4 linked regions of the Homo sapiens genome follow. The protein of the gene in region 1 purifies or fractionates together with the protein of each later gene. This does not show direct contact. Each region holds a gene or a part of one and is shown in the gene's direction. Other genes may lie near its edges.

The links.
Region 2: the proteins of DERL1 (region 1) and FAF2 purify together in Homo sapiens (affinity purification with western blotting; 4 studies listed by BioGRID and IntAct, with this or other methods). This does not show direct contact.
Region 3: the proteins of DERL1 (region 1) and FABP1 purify together in Homo sapiens (affinity purification with western blotting; one study listed by BioGRID). This does not show direct contact.
Region 4: the proteins of DERL1 (region 1) and ESYT2 purify together in Homo sapiens (affinity purification with mass spectrometry; one large-scale study listed by BioGRID and IntAct). This does not show direct contact.

The regions. Positions count from the first base shown.
Region 1 is NC_000008.11:123,010,849-123,015,496, reverse strand, and holds the end of DERL1 (derlin-1), read left to right. Parts: coding exon 1-50; 3' UTR 51-2,327; downstream 2,328-4,648. UniProt on the Homo sapiens protein: Functional component of endoplasmic reticulum-associated degradation (ERAD) for misfolded lumenal proteins. Forms homotetramers which encircle a large channel traversing the endoplasmic reticulum (ER) membrane.
Region 2 is NC_000005.10:176,489,885-176,493,384, forward strand, and holds part of FAF2 (FAS-associated factor 2), read left to right. Parts: intron 1-2,309; coding exon 2,310-2,448; intron 2,449-3,500. UniProt on the Homo sapiens protein: Plays an important role in endoplasmic reticulum-associated degradation (ERAD) that mediates ubiquitin-dependent degradation of misfolded endoplasmic reticulum proteins.
Region 3 is NC_000002.12:88,125,263-88,129,313, reverse strand, and holds the start of FABP1 (fatty acid-binding protein, liver), read left to right. Parts: upstream 1-1,251; 5' UTR 1,252-1,296; coding exon 1,297-1,363; intron 1,364-2,965; coding exon 2,966-3,138; intron 3,139-4,051.
Region 4 is NC_000007.14:158,756,510-158,760,009, reverse strand, and holds part of ESYT2 (extended synaptotagmin-2), read left to right. Parts: intron 1-428; coding exon 429-524; intron 525-2,576; coding exon of another isoform or gene 2,577-2,846; exon of another isoform or gene 2,847-3,005; intron 3,006-3,500. UniProt on the Homo sapiens protein: Tethers the endoplasmic reticulum to the cell membrane and promotes the formation of appositions between the endoplasmic reticulum and the cell membrane. Binds glycerophospholipids in a barrel-like domain and may play a role in cellular lipid transport.

The DNA.
Region 1 (4,648 bases):
GAGGCGGGAGACACAACTGGGGCCAGGGCTTTCGACTTGGAGACCAGTGAAGGGGCGGCCTCGGGCAGCCGCTCCTCTCAAGCCACATTTCCTCCCAGTGCTGGGTGCACTTAACAACTGCGTTCTGGCTAACACTGTTGGACCTGACCCACACTGAATGTAGTCTTTCAGTACGAGACAAAGTTTCTTAAATCCCGAAGAAAAATATAAGTGTTCCACAAGTTTCACGATTCTCATTCAAGTCCTTACTGCTGTGAAGAACAAATACCAACTGTGCAAATTGCAAAACTGACTACATTTTTTGGTGTCTTCTCTTCTCCCCTTTCCGTCTGAATAATGGGTTTTAGCGGGTCCTAGTCTGCTGGCATTGAGCTGGGGCTGGGTCACCAAACCCTTCCCAAAAGGACCCTTATCTCTTTCTTGCACACATGCCTCTCTCCCACTTTTCCCAACCCCCACATTTGCAACTAGAAGAGGTTGCCCATAAAATTGCTCTGCCCTTGACAGGTTCTGTTATTTATTGACTTTTGCCAAGGCTTGGTCACAACAATCATATTCACGTAATTTTCCCCCTTTGGTGGCAGAACTGTAGCAATAGGGGGAGAAGACAAGCAGCGGATGAAGCGTTTTCTCAGCTTTTGGAATTGCTTCGACCTGACATCCGTTGTAACCGTTTGCCACTTCTTCAGATATTTTTATAAAAAAGTACCACTGAGTCAGTGAGGGCCACAGATTGGTATTAATGAGATACGAGGGTTGTTGCTGGGTGTTTGTTTCCTGAGCTAAGTGATCAAGACTGTAGTGGAGTTGCAGCTAACATGGGTTAGGTTTAAACCATGGGGGATGCAACCCCTTTGCGTTTCATATGTAGGCCTACTGGCTTTGTGTAGCTGGAGTAGTTGGGTTGCTTTGTGTTAGGAGGATCCAGATCATGTTGGCTACAGGGAGATGCTCTCTTTGAGAGGCTCCTGGGCATTGATTCCATTTCAATCTCATTCTGGATATGTGTTCATTGAGTAAAGGAGGAGAGACCCTCATACGCTATTTAAATGTCACTTTTTTGCCTATCCCCCGTTTTTTGGTCATGTTTCAATTAATTGTGAGGAAGGCGCAGCTCCTCTCTGCACGTAGATCATTTTTTAAAGCTAATGTAAGCACATCTAAGGGAATAACATGATTTAAGGTTGAAATGGCTTTAGAATCATTTGGGTTTGAGGGTGTGTTATTTTGAGTCATGAATGTACAAGCTCTGTGAATCAGACCAGCTTAAATACCCACACCTTTTTTTCGTAGGTGGGCTTTTCCTATCAGAGCTTGGCTCATAACCAAATAAAGTTTTTTGAAGGCCATGGCTTTTCACACAGTTATTTTATTTTATGACGTTATCTGAAAGCAGACTGTTAGGAGCAGTATTGAGTGGCTGTCACACTTTGAGGCAACTAAAAAGGCTTCAAACGTTTTGATCAGTTTCTTTTCAGGAAACATTGTGCTCTAACAGTATGACTATTCTTTCCCCCACTCTTAAACAGTGTGATGTGTGTTATCCTAGGAAATGAGAGTTGGCAAACAACTTCTCATTTTGAATAGAGTTTGTGTGTACCTCTCCATATTTAATTTATATGATAAAATAGGTGGGGAGAGTCTGAACCTTAACTGTCATGTTTTGTTGTTCATCTGTGGCCACAATAAAGTTTACTTGTAAAATTTTAGAGGCCATTACTCCAATTATGTTGCACGTACACTCATTGTACAGGCGTGGAGACTCATTGTATGTATAAGAATATTCTGACAGTGAGTGACCCGGAGTCTCTGGTGTACCCTCTTACCAGTCAGCTGCCTGCGAGCAGTCATTTTTTCCTAAAGGTTTACAAGTATTTAGAACTCTTCAGTTCAGGGCAAAATGTTCATGAAGTTATTCCTCTTAAACATGGTTAGGAAGCTGATGACGTTATTGATTTTGTCTGGATTATGTTTCTGGAATAATTTTACCAAAACAAGCTATTTGAGTTTTGACTTGACAAGGCAAAACATGACAGTGGATTCTCTTTACAAATGGAAAAAAAAAATCCTTATTTTGTATAAAGGACTTCCCTTTTTGTAAACTAATCCTTTTTATTGGTAAAAATTGTAAATTAAAATGTGCAACTTGAAGGTTGTCTGTGTTAAGTTTCCATGTCCCTGCTCTGCTGTCTCTTAGATATCACATAATTTGTGTAACCAATTATCTCTTGAAGAGCATTTAGGAAGTACCCAGTATTTTTTGCTGGATTAATTCCTGGATGCAGAATTCCTGGGTTTTCATTTTAATGAAGGAGGATGCTTGCTAACTTTGAGTGAGGAGTCATATCTGATTGTAGCATGCTTTATGGCATTTTTATAGCTTCTACCCATGGATCTGAGCCCTGGAACTTTATAAAATTAGTTTAATCCTGTTTCCTCATAAGGCACACACAGACTAGATAGCAGGTGCCATGACATTCCTGAGCCCTTTTTTTTTTTTTTCCTCGAGGGTGAACATCCCAGTCTGTATCTTGGGCCTTCGACAGGCCAACTTCACTCATCACAAGGTGAGGTGACAGGAAGCAGGTTGTATGTATGTCCCTCTTCTATTACTGGGGAAATACTGAAGCAATAGAAAAAGATCCCGCTTATTTAGAAGGACACATTGCCAGTATCATTGTGTTCTAAGCTACCTTTTGAATGACATGGATCTAATAATAGGCAATGTTGCAGTTGCCAACATCTTCGTTTATTGCCAACTCTGTTTCTGAGGTCCCTGCCCCTCTTACACTTTCAGCAGTAACTTAACACTCTGAATAACTAACCTTTGAAAGAAGTTACTCCTTTCTGGACTTTATACTGTTTTTTTCTTAGAAGGCTGGGCTGAGCAAATGGGTTTACTGGCAGTTCACTTGTTTGCCTTCCAGAGTGACTGGTGATCAGAATTGGCCAGGAATACCATGTCCTGTGTTTACTTCTTTCTTAACCCTCCCTCCCACCTTCCCTCCCTGTCCCTCCCTCTTTCTCTCCCTCTCTCCCTCTCTGTCTCTTCTTTCTTTGTTTTTTTGAGACAGGATCTCAGTCTGTCACCCAGGTTGGAGTGTAGTGGCATGATCTCGGCTCGCTGCAACCTCTGCCTCCCAGGTTCAGATGATCCTCCCACCTCAGCCTCCTGAGTAGCTGGGACCACAAGTGTGTGCCACCACACTCGGCTAATTTTTTGTATTTTTGTTCGAGATGGAGTTTCACCATGTGGCCCAGGCTGGTCTTAAACTCCTGAGCTCAGGCAAGTCACCTGCCTCGGCCTCTCAAAGTGCTGGGATTACAGGCCTGAGCCACGGTGCCCAGCCTTTCCCACGATTTATATGTGTGGTTTAAACCTAGGCTCCTTCCCGTACGGTCCCCTTATCTCACATCAACTCTGCTTGTTCCAGTAGGAACGCCGTGTTCGGGGCACACCTGGGCACTGAGCATTAATGTGCCAGGTACTTTATGAAAAAGCCTCCAATTTACGGTTTTTAAAATCTGGCTATACATAAGCATTAAACTTGAGATTTTAAAAAAATGCAGGTATCTTGGCTCATTCCCATTCTACATACTTTTGAAGTTGATTCTGACGTTCAGCTGGATTTGGGAACTTGTGTTTAAACAAACTTGTGAAATAGTATTATCCCCATTTTCCAGATGAGGAAACTTAAGCTTCAAGTCCCTTGATTAAAATCAGGCAGCGGCCAGGTACGGTGGCTCACGCCTGTAATCCCAGCTCTTTGGGAGGCTGAGGTGGGTGGACCTTCTGAGGTTGGGAGTTCGAGACCAGCCTGACCAACATGGAGAAACCCCATCTCTACTAAAAATACAAAAATTAGCTGTGCGTGGTGGCATATACCTGTAATTCCAGCTACTCGGGAGGCTGAGGCAGGAGAATGACTTGAACCCAGGAGGTGGAGGTTGCGGTGAGCCGAGATTGTGCCATTGCACTCCAGCCTAGGCAACAAGAACAAAACTCCGTATCAAAAAAAAAAAAAAAAAAAAGCTAGAAGGTGCCAAAGACAGGATATGAACCCAACTCTGTTGTGGCTTTTCAGTGAAGGAAGCCAAAGCAGATGCAAATAGACGATGTCTCTGTCTTCACGATGCGTCCTTTCTACTGAGGCAGTCAGCTTGGCCCATTGTAGGTACTCATATTTGTTTAATAAGCAAACAAGTCATTATAATACAATTCACCAAACTACCAGAATAAAAGGAAGTAAATTTCTTGGATGAGAGGCTAGGTCTTGAAAGATTGATGGACAGTTCTGGTCAAGATGGAGGAAGCCACTTGTTCTAGGTGGATTTAGAAACAGCAGCAGCAAGAGCAGAAACTTGGGAAGAGAGAACCGTGTGCCTGGACCTGTAGAATACAGGTAGGGAGTGGCAGGGAAAGGGGTTGGGAAGATAGATTGGGGCTTGTATCAGGAAAATCGTTTTGTGTGATTGCTTGAACTTCAATCTGCGGGCAGTGGGGAACATTGAAAGGCCTTCATGTTTGGTCTTTAAAAAGTAGCTGGCAGCCAGGTGTGCTGTCTCACACCTGTAATTCCAGCACTTTGGGAGGCCGAGGCTGGTGGATCACCTGAGATCAGGAGTTCGAGACCAGCCTGGCCAACAT
Region 2 (3,500 bases), on another chromosome or scaffold:
GTTGCAAACACTGGAACCCTTTTATGTATATACCCACTTGCTTCATACCTTCACCTTTCTTCTAGCTTCCTTCATGTACCATTAAAAGAGCTCATCATTGGAAGCTACAGAGGGTCCAAGGCCAGAAAATGAGTGGGGCTCAACTGGCCGGGCTCTGTGGCTCACGCCTGTAATCCCAGCACTTTGGGAGGCTGAGGTGGGCGGATCACAACGTCAGGAGATCAAGACCATCCTGGCTAATACGGTGAAACCCTGTCTCTACTAAAAATACAAAAAATTAGCCGGGCGCGGTGGCTGGTGCCTGTAGTCCCAACTACTCAGGAGGCTGAGGCAGGAGAATGGCGTGAACCCGGGAGGCGGAGCTTGCAGTGAGCCTAGATCGCACCACTGCACTCCAGCCTGGGTGAGAGAGTGGGACTCCGTCTCAAAAAAAAAAAAAAGAAAAAGAAAAGAAAATGAGTGGGGCACAACTTCTTAGCATGTCAGGCTTGGGTTATCTGGTCCAGAGCCATGTCTAGGCTTTATGGGGAACTTAAATGTTCAAGGGCATCCAGGCCAGCAGATGGAGCTGGGATATGTAGTCTGGGCCTTCCCTGGAAGTACAGGTTCCCTGTACTTCCCTTCAAATATGGGACAGCCTTTACCCTGCCTCTAGGGAGCAGAGGCTGAAGTTGTGGGTCCAGCAGCTGCATAAGTACAAGGGTCAGATAGTACCTTTTATATTGGACCCTTGGTGTTTTATGAGGCTGTCTACTTAATGGCTTTCTTGGTTTAGCAACATTCTTCATGATCACTAATTGCTTAGTACTCTTTCCATCCCCATTTTATTTAAGAATGAACATGTAAAAATCTTTAAAATCATAATGAAAACTAAGTTGACATCTCTGTTTTTTTCTAAAAAATCAAAAAAGCTGATTGTCCTAAATTGTGTAGATCGTGGGAATATTGTGTAATGAGGAAAAAAAAATAAAGGCTTTAAGAGAGAATTCTAAAATGCTTAATTTCAAAGAAAGTAGTTAAAACATCAGTCTTCTGATGAATTTCTAACCATTCCCCCACGTATACAACTTACTACATTTTGTGCTTTTAATTCGCTCTGGAACGTTGTTGTCAATGAATTTGGTTTGATTACTCGGGAGAAATTCCAAGTAGAATTGTATACACAGGGGGAATTTGTTGGGATAATGAATTGACTCACTTTTTGTTAAGGAAAAGTATCACAGTTTAATCACCTTGTCTGTGCTGAAAACGTTTTAAGTAAATGAATATTGTTTGCTTTTCTAGGGAAAATATGCACGGCATGTATTACTAATTTTAATGCAGCTGTATCATCCAACCAGCTTGTTTAATGTTAGGTAACACATTATCCTCTGTCCTGTTGCCTTCTCTGGAAACCCAAAGGATAAATAAATGGTACTATACAAATAGGGTAGGCCCTTTAGAAACAGATGTGTGGTACCATTAGGTATGTATTCTTCACTTTACAAGAGCTGCCAGTACTCCACATCTGCCAGGGTACTGTGGAGCAGTTTTATAACTTCCTCCATGGTTGCCATCAACCATAAATCATCAAGCAAAAGGTACTTGCCCCTTTGAAGAGCAAGTAAGTCATAACCGCAACTTCAGATTTGAAGTTCCTATCCGTAAGTTGAATAGTTTGGGGTTGTGAACTCAATATTTAAAATCCCAGGAAAACAGAAAGGAGAAGGAGGGGCAAGTAGGACAACCAGAAAATGACCTCTGTTCTAGAGCACTGTCCAGTAGAACTCTCTGTGATGATAGAAACGTTCTGTATCTCCGCTGTTCAGTATGAAAGCCATTAAACACGTGGCTGTTGAGCACTTGAAATGTGGCTAGCATTACTAAGGAACTGAATTTTAATTGTATGTAATAGATTTAAATTCAGAATAGCCACATTTGACTAGTGGCTACAGTACTTAGACGGTGCCATTCTAGAGAGTCTGGGTGCATAGCCTGACACATGATCTTTTTGGATACTGTGTCTTCCCTTCCAAACCCTTCTAGCCCTAAATTGTTCTACAAAAAATACTCAGGATTTATGTAGGCCAGTGTTGGAATTTATAATCCCAGTAGTTTGCATTCTTCCTGAACAGGCAATAGAATAACACTTGCTGCTTTATGGCTTTTGAACCAGACTCTACTCTCGGATTTGATGGTCCACTCACAGACTGTTCACCTCCCTTTGTTGCCGTGCCTCTGGCTCTGTTACAGGAATCTGTACAAATTGGCCCACTCGATATGCACTGTAGTAAGCTGGATTCATGTGATATTTATTCCTTCCTCCCCAGGTTTGCTCTTCGTTTTATACGGCCTGACCCTCGCAGCCGGGTCACTGACCCCGTTGGGGACATTGTTTCATTTATGCACTCTTTTGAAGAGAAATATGGGAGGGCACACCCTGTCTTCTACCAGGGAACGTACAGCCAGGTCAGTGCCATAAACCATATAGATGCCAACTTACCGAAATGATTCTATCCTCAAAGGAGAGCACAGCCCAGCACTGATCATGTCCTTCTTGTACTCAAAAACCTTAATTAGCTCTTCACTGCTTATAGGGGTGGGTAATAAAAAAGACCAAACCTTTTAGCTGGCCCCTCTTTGATCTAATGCTGCCCTTCTTTTGAGGTCTTTTCTGCATAACTTATTTTACCATACCCTCAGTTCCAGCTGACTCATTCCCTGAACATAGTCTGTACTTGCCTACCTCTGTGCCTTTGCTTTTGCCGGTCCATCCACGTGGAATGCCTTCCTCACATTTTTGCTAATTGGAATCTTGCCAGTCCTTCAACTAGATTATGTCACGCCCCACTTACAGCTATCCCTGATTGTTGTGCCCTGTCCTGCCCTATCTCATCATCTAGAATACTAATCTTTCCCTTTGTTCTTCCATAGCTTTTAAAAATTGATAGCAATTTTATATTCTTTCCTATATCATTTGTGTTCGTGTCTAATCTCTGCTACCAGACTGAAAGCCCCTTGAAGGCAAAGCCTACATCTTCTTTGATCTCTCACAGAATTGAATAAGGACATAGACCATAGACTCAGGGTAGCACATCTCATTCAACCTCAGCCATGTAGACCTTTGACTCAAGACCTCACCATTCAGGGGAGGAAAAATTAGAGTTCTGTGGGTGTTTGGTATATCTCTAGTTTGCCAGAGAAATACATAGAATTAACACTACAGGAATAGGGAAAACTATGGGAATGCTGTGGCAATAGGCAAAAGGGGGTTCTATTATGCAGCCTCCAGAATTCCTGAATCTATCTGGAGAAAGAAAAATGCTCACCCTTGCTTCCTGCTTTCATTTTCCCACATCTGCTTTTTATCATAGTCAGTCTCCTCGCTGGCTGTTCCCACCACACTCAACAAAAACTGAGCACCTACTGTATGCCAGGCAATGTCCTCAGTGCTAGAGATACAGAGATGAGTGAGATGAGCACCTCCTGTGTACCCTCTCTGCTATGATCCTGAGGGTAGA
Region 3 (4,051 bases), on another chromosome or scaffold:
TGGAAGTGTTATTGGGGGTGGCCATCATGACCCGTCACGTGACACTAGGCCATCCAGGACCTGTGGCCTCTGAAGTGATGGGAACCACTGAGGCTCATGCCTGGAGCAGTGGCCCGACTCAGCCTATGCTTCAGGATGATCTGTCTAACCACAGAGTAGAGGAGGCCCAGAGGATGAAGGCTGGAGGCTGCAGGTGAAAAGGTTGACGCCAAAGTCCAGACAAAGAAGGGAGAGAATCTAGGGGTGAGGGGGTGCTTGTAAGGAGCTGCCTCAGAGGCAGGAACTGGGACGTGCACCCATTGGGCACCACGCCTCTCTGTGCTTCACAACAAACTGGCACATCCCAAGGCCACTGGAAGCCCTGCTGGGCCATCTCCCCAAGGCCAGTGCTGTACACATAACCCTACAAGACCAGTTTCCTACACATAACCCTACAAGACCAGTTTCCTACACATAACCCCAGATCCCTTGTCCTGTCTTCTCAGTGGGGCTGGAGCAAGTCAGCAGGTGCCACTTTCTCCTGCCTTGTCTCTGCCTAATAAAATGCGTCTCAATGTTTTACACCTGCCATTTAGCATGGACTGCTTTAACACCTCAAAAAGGCCTGTGGAGGAGCCTATAATCATCAAGGAGGAATTCCCAGAATACAAAATAACACTAGCGGCTGATAACAACTCTAAAAAATAAGTTTGTGTAATAATGGGGGTGAGAAGAGATCATAAGGTTATGTAAATAAGGTGAGGTTTTGAGTTCAAAGGAATTCTCTGGTATTTTTCTGTGTGTGTACACATGCACCCACACACTTGTGTGTATATGTGTACAGACATATATAAACACATGCATATAATGTGTATATATGCATTACATATATGCACATTCATACATCTTTATGTACAAAATACATATATGTATATATAAACACCGATGTACAAACACATACGCACACATCTATATACATACACATGTGTGTGCACATATACACATACCTGCATATACACACATTTCGTGGGGTGCGGAGAGTCACTTAAAGGCTGCAGGGCCATAAGGCTTCCTGCTTGACTGATATTCATTAATGTTTGCTGAATTACAGCAAACCTTTGCTGTGCCCATCCTGTTCTTTATCATTGACCATTGCTCTCAGGAGTTAATGTTTGAACCTGGCCATAAAGGAATCAACAGCTGCTGACCTCTGGCCGCTATTCGAAGGGAAGGGAGCCCCCTATAAAACAGCCTACAGTGGACAGTCTGGTCGGCAGAGCCGCAGGTCAGTCGTGAAGAGGGAGCTCTATTGCCACCATGAGTTTCTCCGGCAAGTACCAACTGCAGAGCCAGGAAAACTTTGAAGCCTTCATGAAGGCAATCGGTGAGTGCTGGACTGAAAGGCAAAGCTGTGGGTCACATCAGTGAGGGTCTAGCTCTACCAGCAGTGGCTATTTAGGGTCCAAATGTTGAGATGGGGGGAGAGATTCAGGCTATATACACAAACTAGGGGGCATTTTACTGACTTCTGGAGTTATTTGCAGCAAGTCCTCACTGCACAAGGCCACCCCATAGGCAAGTGGAAAGAGCACTGAACTAGGGTGTGGTCTGGATTGATGGCCATGTCATTGGCACTTCGTTGTGTGATCCTATTCCTGCATTTATTCATTCTTCAAACAAACAGTGATTCAAGGCCAACCACACACTGAGCACTGTGCTGGATAGATACCAGGGAGACAGATGATAAAGGCAATAAGGCATTTTCTTATCAGGGAAGAGAAGAGAAGAAATAAAGGTAATAAGGCATTCCCTCAGGTGTATGGAGCGCTGACTGTGCCAGGCGACTGTGCTGACCATGGGATATGCAATACCCCATCTATTCCTTGCCAAAAAACTAAGCTGGGTACCATTATTTTCCCACTTTACAGTTAATGCAACTGAAGCCCAGAAAGGTTTAGTAATCACAAGCAAGGTCATGCAAGTAGGAAGTGTTTAAGTTAGGATTGGAAGCAGGCACTGGTTCTCAGAGACCCTGCTTTAACCCCTGTGCCTCCTAGGGTCATGTACAGGAGGATGTGGCTCACAGAGAGCATGGGGGGATGGCTCAGTGGAGGTAAAGAGAAGGCTCAGGCTGAGCTTTGGAAGACAGGTGTCTAGGGAACTGGGGGCAGGGAGCATGCTCCAGGCAGAGGGAGCCCTATAAGCAAAGGGTGTGGCATGGCAAGGGAGGGTGCCAAGAATGAGAAGGGTGCTGAAGACAGCAGGGGCAGGGAGAGAAGGACCTTCAGTGCTGCCAGAGAAGGATCTTCTGCAGGCAAGCCATACCACCTCTGTGTCTCTCATCTCTCCCTCATGCAACAGGACCCTCTGTGCTCACTGTCCACCCACAAAATTTTTGTGAACCTCAATTTGTATAACAGCATAGACAAGTTCTGAAACTGGTAAAGCTCTATCCCAGGGCAAGGGATTGCTGGTATGTCTTCCTCCAGAGCCTTGACTGCAGAGGTGGACACAGGCTTGCCTGGCACAGTGCCGCTTTGTGTATGTTGGCCTGGCATGATTATCAGCAGCTCCCCTTTCACTTGCAGGAGGGACCTAGCTTGGAAGATCAACTCTCTGGTCACCAGGGGTATGGGGAATGAAATGCTCACACTCCAAGAGCAAAGTCATCAAAGGAGGAGGGAATGAGGAAGGAGAGTGAGCAAGAACCAGGGTGCTTACAAGAGGAACGGTTCTTCAGGCCAGAAGAGTGTCCTTTTTATAAATTGACTGGCAAGATAGCAGCAGGCCAGGCCAGGTCACTGTCCCTTCCTTTCTGAGGCCACAGCCGATGCTGCTGACAAGCCCCCAGTGAGTTTCTGTGGCCCCTTGGGAGACACAGTGCCCTTCTCTGTCCCTCCATGTCATGTCGTTTCTCTCACCTACCTACCACGGTCATGAAACTCCCACCTCTGCCCATATCTAAACCTCAGACGGTTTCCACCAGGTCTGCCGGAAGAGCTCATCCAGAAGGGGAAGGATATCAAGGGGGTGTCGGAAATCGTGCAGAATGGGAAGCACTTCAAGTTCACCATCACCGCTGGGTCCAAAGTGATCCAAAACGAATTCACGGTGGGGGAGGAATGTGAGCTGGAGACAATGACAGGGGAGAAAGTCAAGGTAGGAGGGCATCCCTTCTGCTGTCAGAACTTTCCTTGGAACCTGGCCCTGGGACCTCATTCCTCAAGGCTCAAACCTCACAATTCCACCCACAGATACCATCTCTGAACCCACCTCCCATGTGGGAGAAGCAGAGAGACAAAGGCAGCTCTTAGGGAAGAATCTTATAGAGAAGCTGCTCTCCTCTTCCCAGGGACTGTCTGGGGGGTGTTCCAGCCCCTAAAGTCTGAGCTCTCCCATATGGAGGATATGGGAGAACCAGGCATACAGCAGGATTCTAAGTCTCAGGTTCTCCCAGGCCCAGTGCTCCTAGCACTAAGAGTCCTCTAAGCAGGGCCCAGGAGTGGGGCAAGTGGGAGTTTGTGAAAAACCCTTAACTGAGCCCAAAGTCAACTGGCCTTCACTGAACCTAGAGCTGGTGGTGATAGGGAGAGACTTCTTGAAGGAGGTGCTAGCAATACCAGAATACCAGGGCCCCAGACAGGTGCTCAGACCCTGCCTTCAGGGGTGGTCACAAAGTCTCTGGCTTCAGCCACCCCATCTGTAAAATAAGAACAGTCAACCTCCCTAGACTGAAGGCAGTGCAGGGCAGCATCACTTCTGCTGGGCACAACTCATGGTGTGCAATGACAGCTGGGGTGTGGGCTGTGTGAGTGGTTGGCAGATGGTGGCAGGGGGATCCTGGCAATGGGGGTGCCCGTCTCCTCCTCCCTCTGAAACACTCCATGCTCTAGCAGCCCTCTTCTCTCCTCCCCGTGGACAGCTCTGTTCATTGGGCTGGGCGTGTTTGCTTTTTATCTCTTCTGGTCACTCTTTATTTCTGCCTCTCCAATTAGAACATTACAGGTCAGGATGATTTTAGGAGGATAATATTCTTGATGTGCTCATGGTCAAGGGATTTAACTATGGGCCT
Region 4 (3,500 bases), on another chromosome or scaffold:
CATAACTGAGCTTGGTCTCTCAGTTGTGTTGCTACTTGATTTTTTAACAATTATAGCAGTAATTTTCATTATTGTGTAATAAGTCACTACAGTAGCATCAGGGATAAATTAAAGATAATGGAGTTTTTAAAATGAAATTTATAGGTCCTTCATACCTGTTTTATCAGATCTTCAGTTTTGAGCTTGTTAAAGTGCAGGGATTTGTAGAGCCAGAAATCACCTGAGTGCTTCATTTAATTGACTTATATATGGAATAGTAGTCTTGTTATTTAAAAGGCATTTATTGTTTTAGTTCTGTCTCTGTTGCATGGATTGGATGGTTTCTCACCTTTCTTATTTTTAGCGTAATCAACATGATACAATCAGATAGAAATAGTATCTAATCCTGTGGAAACATGGCTGCTAAGGGCTTTTTCCTTTCCTTTTAGGTGCTAACAGACATCAAAGCTGACAAAGACCAAGCCAACGATGGTCTTTCCTCTGCATTGCTGATCTTGTACTTGGATTCAGCAAGGAACCTTCCGGTAGGTAACACAGTGGTAACACCTGTGGGTGCGTATTTCCTAGCAGCTGCTCTTGCTTATAACCACTGCTTTGTGCAGCACTCTGCATCACCTGTTCTCTTCTTGTTGTGTTTTCACTTCACGTCCAAGTGCAGGAGAGTGGCAGTGGAGAGGGAGAAGTTAGTGTTTGCTCTGGGAGTGCATACATTTCTGTTTACACATTTAGCTGGATTTGTGCAGTACATAGGAAAAGAAGATGAATAGTGGTTAGGAGAAGAGGTTAACTCTCTAGAAAATCACTAAGCATTAAAACTTAGTTGCCTTAGGATGGAAATTGTCTCTCTTTGGAATGGGAATAAAATGAAGCAGCTCTGATTACAAAATGCAGATTCCTCATGGCTGTCGCAGGGCCGTGCGTGAGCTGCTGGGCCTTGGCGATCCGTGGGGCATCAGATGGCAGAATGGTGCTGCTGCACAAGCGAGCTGGCCTCCGGGTGCCTGGGATGTTTCTCGCAGAACAAAAGGAAGCCATGTCTCGGAATGACCTACTGCCAGATACAAGACACTCTGTGCCTAGAAGCATATATTTTTGTTTGTATCAGAATTGTTCATTCGTAGAGAAAAAATGTAAAATGTTGTTTTATAGGTAATAACCGTAACCACAGAAAAGGAAGATCTTACTAATTCCATCTTGTGAGGCATAGTGTGCTCTCCCGTCATCCTACCTTAAACCCTGCTAGTGAGGATAGTGGTGTGGTCCTTAGTCATGTCATCTTGTTTGATGATTTTAGAGTGCCCATACACTTGCTGACTAGGCACTCAGTGTTTATTTCATCGTGTCCACAGCCGCTTTTGTTGGAAGAAAGACTGCTGCCACGCGGTGCAGAAGTTTCTTTCCTCCCCAAGTTGTTCATTGCATAATTCCTCCTCCACAGTAAATACTCATCCACCCAAGTGCATTTGTACATAAATCGTCTTCCTGTGTCTTTTCTCCCTTTGTCAGTGTTTACCAGGGAGATAGACAAGAAGGCAAAGAAGCGTTTAACTCACTTCTTGACACACATCCTGGACCTCAGTTATCGGCCTCTCGATCCCCTGTAGTCTTGCCTTGCCGTGGTCAGACTACGCTTCATAGTTCACGATATGCACGCCCTTGGCTTCCTCCAGCACCTTCCACGTTCTGAGAACTGTGCATTTCCTTGAGCTTTGCACAGAAATGAAGTAAATACTTGTGCACCCGTGCATTTTATTTAAAGTTACCTACAATTAAGATATGATTGATCACTTATATTTCATACTGGGAGGATGTGATTGTACTCTTTGTTGTATGTAATTGTATATAATTGCACTGTTTATTTCAATGAAGCTTTCTTGACCGATTTTAACTTCTTAGAAGAATTCTTACATTTCTCTTATTTACCTTAGCCTTTGATCAGTCTTCCAGTCTAAAGTCTGTGACTTTACCTGTTACAATTTCAATTTGGAAAAAGTTATTTCATTAAGTATTTAATCTTTCCACAGAATTTCTATACAGTAGAATTGTTTGCTTTTAGCCATGGTAATGTTTGTTGTAAAGGCTTCCATAATGCCTGATGGAAGTGAATTTGTTTTCTATTTTAGGGTAGAGAGAATAGTATCAGTGAATTGACTACAAAAGGTTAGGCCTCTTTAGAACTGTGTGTGTTGTCACATTAAATTGAAATTTGAATAATGTCACATAAGCAAAAAAAACAAAAAACAAAAAAAAAAAAACCCAGAGAGACTGTATTGATCTTCTGTTAAAAGGGCACTTTGTGCATGGAATGTGCTGTGGCCATCAGAAGCAAAGGATCTTTGCAGAGCCGCGGGGTGCCTGGCGCGGGATTAAGGGGCGTCCCGCGGGCTCTAGGATCCTTTGGCTCTGGATTAAGGGGCGTCCCGCGAGCTCTGGGATCCTTTGGCGCTGGATTAAGGGGCGTCCCGCGAGCTCTGGGATCCTTTGGCTCTGCCTCTCACTGTCTGTGGTGCTCCTGGTGCTCTCATTGACCACAATCCACCGTTCTCTGCTTTCTCCCCTGGCTCCACTGCCCTAAGGGCATCTACGAGGGAAACTTTGGGTGTGGCTACTTAAAAGAGAGGCGAGCGTCGGGACTAGTGTTTTGTGAAAATACCGCCTCAGTCTATAGAGCACTATTTGTGAGTCCTCCGGGGTTCTTTCTTTCTTTGTCTGTTTGGAAACTGCCAGAATGTGGACTGGAACTTCTAATGCAGTTGGCTGGCGGTGGACTGATGTTGCATGCTTTTATTTTCTTGCATGATTTTAACTATTGTGTATTTATTTTGTGCTTGTTTTGTGAAATGTAACACTGTTGTAACATTGGAGAGCATCTGACCATGAGATGAACAACCCTGGCTAGTAGAGAAGTGGTCCTCCATTCCTCAACTGCTACTGGCTCGTTGAAAAAAACCTCTCCTGAGGAGAAATGAAGCCATAATGATTAAAATTCATTTTCTTGTGGTTCATCTCAATGTGAGATGTAAATTTTTTTGTAAAGTTTCACAAAACTGTTTTAAAATCTATCCCCTCCTTTTTTTTTTTTTTTTTTTTTTTTTAATTTGAGATGGAGTTTTGCTCTTCTTGCCCAGGCTGGAGTGCAATGGCATGGTCTCGGCTCACTGCAACCTCCACCTCCCATGTTCAAGTGATTCTCCTGCCTCAGCCTCCCGAGTAGCTGGGATTACAGGCACCCACCACGACGCCTGGCTAATTTTTGTATTTTTAGTAGAGACAGGGTTTCACCATGCTGACCAGGCTGGTCTCCAACTCCTGATCTCAGGCAGTCCACCCCCCTCGGCCTCCCAAAGTGCTGGGATTACAGGTGTGAGCCACCATGCCCGGCCTATTATCCCTTCCTGATCAAACACGCAAGAGTCAGAACTAGGGCCTTCTTTGAAAACCCTGCTGTGTAATCAACTCTCAGTCATTTGGGGGATGGTCACGTGAAGATAGAAATTCAC